Linked DNA regions of Homo sapiens. The protein of the gene in region 1 purifies or fractionates together with the protein of each later gene. This does not show direct contact. Each region holds a gene or a part of one and is shown on either strand. Other genes may lie near its edges. The genes, in order: AMD1 and FARSB.

Region 1 (3,825 bases):
GCCTTGCTGGGGGATACTGGACTAAACAGCCCCTCCCCCCCTTTTTTTTTCTGAGGCGGAGTCTCAGTCTGTCCAGGCTGGAGTGCATTGGCGCAATCTCCTCTCACTGCAACCTCTGCCGCCCAGGTTCAAGCGATTTTCTTGCCTCAGCCTCCCAAGTAGCTGGTATTACAGGCGCCTGCCACTGTGCCCGGCTAATTTTTGTATTTTTAGTAGAGACGGGGTTTCATCATCTTGGCCAGGCTGGTCTTGAACTCCTGACGTGGTGATCCACCTCGGCCGCCTAAAGTGCTGGGATTACAGGTGTGAGCCACTGTGCCTGGCCTCTCTCTTTTTTTTTTTTAAACTAAGTTTATATTATGAATATACGAATGTTTATCAAAATGCTTACCATGTGCCAAGCCCTGGGGATGTTTTGTATACTAGAAAAGGAAAAGAATAATGTGTTACTTGCTTCCTTGAGATCCTAATATTTAAAAGTACTAGCCAAAATTGTAAATGATAATTAAATTGGTTGATTGCACCCTCAGTAGTACATTAGTATTGTTATAATATTGTGACTTTTTTCAACTGCAGTGAGAGTAGCATGTTTGTCTCCAAGAGACGTTTCATTTTGAAGACATGTGGTACCACCCTCTTGCTGAAAGCACTGGTTCCCCTGTTGAAGCTTGCTAGGGATTACAGTGGGTTTGACTCAATTCAAGTAAGTAAGCAAACATTTAAATATTTTTCAGGCATAAATGTTAGCGTTCTTATCCTGTAATATGCGAAGTAAATAAATTTATATACTTACTGCCTTTGTTACAATGCATGCAAACACGTGGTAAGGTGTTCATACCTTAGGAAGAGATCTGATTCTCAAGAACAGCAGAAAATAGGAAGCAGAGAATGAGTTAGGATGAAATTCAAATGGGAGAAAGAAATGAAGAAGCCAGACACTTCCAGTAGTTAATTTCTTAACATGGCTACTTATAATAATAGAGAAATGGTAAGAAAAGAAGGAAAAGCAAGAAAAATGTCGTTACTGAAATTGTCCAGTCTTTATAATGAAGAGTTAGGATGAAGAGCAACAGTCAGTATTGAGTTAAATTCTTATACTTTTCAAGAACTAAGGTGTTTTTACCTAGGGTATAATTTTCTGATTAGCAGTTGTTACATTTTATTTATTTTTTATTTTTTTGAGATGGAGTTTCGCTCTTGTTTCCCAGGCTGGAATGCAATAGCACGATCTCAGCTCACTGCAATCTGCACCTCCCAGGTTCAAGTGATTCTCCTGCCTCAGCCTCCCAAGTAGCTGGGATCACAGGTGCCCACCACCATGCCTGGCTAATTTTTTTTGTATTTTTAGTAGAGACGGTGTTTCACCATGTTGGCCAGGCTGGTCTCTTAACTCCTGACCTCAGGTGTTCCACCCACCTCAGTCTCCTAAAGTGCTGGGATTGCAGGCGTGAGCCACTGCACCCGGCCTGAATTTTAATCTTTAACTTCATAAGGAAAGGATGGATTGTCATTAGTACTCAATACAGTTTTTGTTGTTATGAATTGATCCTTGTAAGAAATCTAAAGCAATGTGTGCTTAACCGATGCTTAAAACTAATATGTTATTCCCCCCAAATTTTTGCTTATATGACTATTAATAAGCTCAGTTTAGAAACTACTGTTCTAGAAAGGAATATACTTGGTGTTAATAGTTGTTATGACCCATCATCACTAGACTGGGCTTTTTAAAAAAAAGAGAGAGAGAGAGAGATGGGGCCTCAGTATGTTGCCCAGGCTGGACTCCTGGGCCAAGTGATCCTCCTGCCTCCTAATAGCGAGACTACAGGCATATGCTACCATGCCAAGCTAAAATATTTGAGTTTTGATTTTGCCGAGTTTTTGATATGTGGACAATAGTTGATTAGCTTCGAAAAGTGATAGAATTCTACATCTAAAGTCATCTTTTTTTTTCTTTCTTTTCTTTTTTAATAAAGAGCTTCTTTTATTCTCGTAAGAATTTCATGAAGCCTTCTCACCAAGGGTACCCACACCGGAATTTCCAGGAAGAAATAGAGTTTCTTAATGCAATTTTCCCAAGTAAGTTTAAATAAAATATAAACCTGTTGTCTTCTTAAAGATAGAAAGTGCAACCTCAGAGATCTTTCTATATGAGAGCATACTTATGCATATATAGCATTCTACACACACTAATACTTGCTTTTCTTGTGGGTTTTTTGGTTTGTTTTAGACAGGGGTCTCATTCTGTCACCCATGCTGGTGCAGTGGTGTGATCACAGCTCACTGCAGCCTCAACATCCCAGGCTTAAGTGATCCTCCCACCTTAGCCTCCCAAGTAGCTGGGGCTACAGATGTTTGCCACCCCACCTGGCTAATTTTTTTTTAATTTTTAGTAAAGACAAGGTTTTGCCATATTGCCCAGGCCGGTCTTGAACGCCTGGGCTCAAGGGATCCACCTGCCTTGGCCTCCCAAAGTGCTAGGATTACAAGTGTGAGTTACTGCACCTGGTCCATATTTACTTTGACTTAGATGTTTTGGGAGTACAGTAGTGATCTTTATATAGCTTGTAATTCAAAATATGCAGAATTTATAAAGAACATTAAAATATCAGATAAAATATTTTTAGTTAAGATTAATAGCTTATTGCAAATTATGTATACACATGTAAAAATAATTGTGTATCATAAATCAGTGCTGTTTAAATGATGGAATTTTAAAATGTAGAATTGATCACCTGCCACCTCTGATTTTTCATACAGCATAGAGAGAGTTCATCTTCATCTGGCCATTCACTCTACTTTATGTCTCACTCAGTGGTTCTTTTTGCGTTTTTGTTTGAGACAAGTTTCACTTTGTCTCCCAGGCTGGAGAGCAGTGGCATCATTATAGCTCACTGCATTGTCAAACTCTTGAGTTCAAGCACCCAGCTAATTTTTATTTTATTTTTAGTAGAGATGGAATCTTGCTGTGTTGCCCAGGCTGGTCTTGAACTCCTGCCCTCTAGCAGTCCTCCAGCCTCAGTGGTTCTTAACATACAGATCATAATGTCCTTTGACAATATGAAGAAGGATATGATTCCCTTCAGAAAAATGCCTAGTGCTCTGCTCCAGCATTTTATATAATAATTGACCTGGCTTTTTAAAATTGCACAGTGTAAATTAGTGTTTCTTGAATGAAATTCGTAAGGGTTTCTTTCATCCATTTACTAAGCTTTTATTTATAGAGGTCAGGGAACAAAGGTTATCTGATAACATCCTTACTTCCTAGATAAGGCTGAAAACCTAAGATAATTTAGTAACTTTGCACAAAGTCGCTCATAAGCATGAAAATTGAACTTAGCACATCTACTAATATGAAACCAAACCAGGCTAATCAGAGTGTTGGGTATTTACTGCAAATACCCGCCAAGTCAGTCGATCCTGCTTATCTGGGAATTTACCTACTGTTTCCATTCCTTTCACTGATGACATTTCTTTTTTCTTGAGATGGCGTCTCGCTTTGTCACCCAGGCTGGAGTGGAGTGGCGTGATCTTGGCTCACTGCAACCTCCGCCTCCCGGGTTCAAGCAGTTCTCCTGCCTCAGCCTCCCAAGTAGCTGGGATTATAGGCATGTGCCAACACGCCCAGCTACTTTTTGTATTTTTAGTAGCGATGGGGTTTCATCATGTTGGCCAGGCTCGAACTCTTGACCTCAAGCCCACCTCTGCCTCCCTGCCAAAAGGGGTGGGATTATAGACATGAGCTACTATGCCCAGTCCACTGATGGATGACATTTCTAATAAGTGGCAAATAGTATCATTCTGCTTATTGTGGAAGGGTAGTAACAA
Region 2 (3,825 bases), on another chromosome or scaffold:
TCACGGAGGGGAATCACACACACCTGCTAAATAATTTTTTAAGACGCCATAAAAGCATTAAACACCAGTTTTAAAATATGTTCTCAAAGATGAATGGCTATGACTAAAATTTTCATGGAAATTTTCAAATGGCTACAATCTGCATGAATCTAATTCCTCAAATCAACCCTCTATTGAGAGCTAAAGCTACGTTCCTCTACAAGCTTTTTCCTAGAAATTTAAACATGGCTGCTGATAATGACAAGGAAAGAAAAGAAAACCCAACTTAGCAAAGTCTTTAAGGAACATATTTCCTTACCTTTCTTTGAAGACCTGAAGTCCTCGAACCAATCCTTCCAGACACAGGAGATCATATCTATTGGCAGGGACGTCAATTTTGTAAAGAACAACATCAGAGGCTCCTGCTGCCTTTACATTACCTTGTTCTTTACTTATTATTTCCTTCTCAGATGTCTAAAACAAGCCAAAAAGTAATGATAAAAATTAAATAATTTAAACTCTCTTTAAAAAGTAAAAGTTGTCAGCCCTATAAGGCAGTAACTACATTATACATATTTTCTATAACAAGAACATGGGATTATTATATCCACGACAAAAACAACATGAAAATATTAAGTGTTATAATCATAGCAGACAGAAAAATACTTCAGCTTTAACTGAGTTCAGATATCTGGCAACCTCAATCACCCCAGAAAAGCACAAATCCATCTAAACAAGGGTCAGCAAGCAATAGCCCCCTGGCCAAATCATACCTGATACTTGTTTTTGTAAATAAAGATTTATTGGAACACAGACAGACCCATTCATTTACATATTATCTACTGCTACTTACACACTGCAATAGCTGAGTTGTAACAGAGACTATAGAGCCAAAAAGCCTAAATATTTACTATCTGGCCCTTTACAGAAAAAGTTTTCCCATCTCAAGCTAAAAGAAAATTAAAACATCACCAAGAACATAAAGTAACAACAACAAAAGTGTCAAAGGGGTAAAAGAAAGATGATTCACTAAATAAAAGAAACACAACTTCTTATAGGATGACTCTAAAACCTAAATCCTGTGGGCACCCAAGTCCACATGAGAATGAGAGGGGTAGTATAAAAACTAAAAACAGTCAGAGACCATCAGACACTGGTAAAAATTAGAAGGGATAATAGGTACAATGGGAAGCAAACTAGTGATAGCAAAGGGATAGTGCAGCAGAATGAAGGCAGCCAAGAGGGAGATGACAGAAGAAACACCACTAGAATCACGTTTAATGCAGTGGCAAAGAGTTTAGAATATCTCAAGCACCACACTACAGCAGAGTAACAGATTTTCTTAAACATAACCACTGCAGAGAAGTTACACTCTATTCCTTATGTTTACTACAGCAGGGAACTGTAAATATATTTAAGAAATTTTCACTTGAAATGATTACAAGTTGTATTCCAACTGTTAATGTTACGCTTTAATTATGTGGAAACTCCACTTAACCAGAATTCCTACTATTTCCACCACCAACAACCTGCTAAAATAACTGATGGATTTCTATCAAAATATGTAATGATTTTTGTTTTACATGATGCCCTCCCACTGCCACAATATAAGTAGTTCAAATTTTTGTCCAAATTAAGAATTATATCCACATTTGCACAATATGCAGAGAAATTCACTTCTGGCCACGAGTATTATGTGCCAAAGTCCCACCTGAGGAACCACAGGAGTCTATGCAATGCTGGGGCTGTACAAGGTGGTGCTGGGCTCCAAAAAACCTCTACCTTGGGCATCTCAAACTTAGGAGGCAAATTTTTATAATTAGGGAAAATGAAAAATGAAAAACAAGAGAATGAAGAGGAGGAGGAAGGAGTAAAAAGGGGGAAAAGAAAAGAAGGGGAATGGGGAGAGGCAAAAAGAGAAGAGGAAGAATTCGAGTTTAAACAATGTTCAATCAAAGGGGTTAATAAAATTACTGTTTCAATAGTGAAGAAAGCTGAGTCACCTCCCAGGAGATGGCAGATCTCAGGAGGGACCTATATACAGAGAAGATAATATAATAACCGGAGAAATGAAGGCATCTGCATTCATTTTTCAGCAGCACCCCCTTATCCACAGGGGATATGTTTCAAGCTCCCCAGTGGATGCCTGAAACATTGGATAGGACTAAATGTTACATATACCATGTTTCTTCCTATACATACATACCTATGAAAAAGTTTAATTTATAAATTAGGCACAGTAAGAGATTAACAACTAATAATAAAATAGAACAATTAAAATAATATACTATAATAAGAGTAATGTGAATGTAGTCTCTTTCTGTCTCAGAATTTCTTATTGTACTATACTCACCTATTTTCAAACCACAGTTTGCTGCAGGTAACCAAAACTGTGGAGGCAAAAAACTGTGGATAAGGAGGAACTACTGTAAAAAAAGATCTAATTCCTTTGCAAAAAAAAAAAAAGACACAGAAGCTTACATCTTCTTTCAGTTTCAGCATCTCAGCTCATACAATGACCATATGTAAAGACTGAATTTGTCAGTGCTACCTGACAATAATCTTACAGAAATTTAAAATCACATAAATTTCAGAGTCAAAAAAGAAAACCATAAAGATCATATAATCCAAACCCCTTATTTCACAAATGAAAAGGAGGCCCAGAGAGACTCGTCTGGACTATAGAGTTCAGACAGGCAAAGTAATTGTCCATAGTTACACAGCTAGTAAATGTTAGAACTAGAACTCAAATAATCTAACATCCAGTCCAACACTCTTAGATATCACATAATTTCAAACATAATTCTGAGGTGTAGTAAAATTACGAATAGCAACTTATAAACTACAGAAATCTCAGCCAATTTCTCAAGTATACAAATAGATTAGTACAAAGATGATCTTTCTGTAACATTAGTAAGGCAGCAGGAAAAATAAGGTAAGATAATGTACAATTTTTTAGCCTGAACATTTTTTAACTTTACACCTAAGGTAGTGTTATAAAAGCACTGAATAGGTGAAGATAGAAGGCTTAGGAAAAAAATAATACTAACTATCAGAAAATTATCTTTTAAATTAAAGTATGTCTTTTTTTTTTTTTGAGAAAAAAATTGGGCTTTTATTGGCAATTACAAAAGTAATAGATTTTCTTACATAATACGTTCCTTCAGTAATATATTTTTCAAGTATTTTACCATAGAATTTCTAAAGTACTTTGTCATTGACCCCATAATTTATTATAAAGTAGGTCCCATAATCACATTTTTTGGAAGTTGCTGAAATTGAGATAAAAAATATTGTTTTTTTATGAGAAAAACTGGACAAAATACAGAATGGCCAAAACTAGATTAACTGGCTCAGTTATGTCTACTAGGTGAAAGAAAATACAGAATCTGTTACTGTAGAAATTTTAAGAGGTTTTGAGTCAGTTCCAGTATAAAAATAAGGCCAAAGTTCTCCTGTAAAATCATCATTAAAAGTACAGAGAAGAGATCTATCATTCAAATTATAAAAGGAAACCTCATTCATTTCACAGTCTAAAAAAATGCCAATCTTACTAGGTGTTACTTTTGGCAGCAGAATAATTTCCTTATGGCCCAATACAATATAATTATTCCGACTAGATTACCAAATTCTCCATAATCCATCCTGTACTAAAATTGGTTGACTCTTCCTCCTTGTGGGAGGAGAGTCACTACAGACACCAAGAATCCATTCAGGCATGTCTTTAACTTCTACTTCCCGGTACTGCCTGCCACAATTTTATCCCTTAGAACCCAGAACAGCTGGGAGCAGATAAAATCTTCTTGGGTTATGAGGTAAGTTTTGTGTTGTATTTCCATATCGCAC

The links.
Region 2: the proteins of AMD1 (region 1) and FARSB purify together in Homo sapiens (affinity purification with mass spectrometry; one large-scale study listed by BioGRID and IntAct). This does not show direct contact.

Annotation. Positions count from the first base shown.
Region 1 is NC_000006.12:110,888,281-110,892,105, forward strand, and holds part of AMD1 (S-adenosylmethionine decarboxylase proenzyme), read left to right. Parts: intron 1-55; exon of another isoform or gene 56-126; intron 127-576; coding exon 577-703; intron 704-1,973; coding exon 1,974-2,076; intron 2,077-3,825.
Region 2 is NC_000002.12:222,642,553-222,646,377, forward strand, and holds part of FARSB (phenylalanine--tRNA ligase beta subunit), read right to left. Parts: intron 3,795-3,825; exon of another isoform or gene 3,070-3,794; intron 2,370-3,069; exon of another isoform or gene 2,333-2,369; intron 454-2,332; coding exon 299-453; intron 1-298.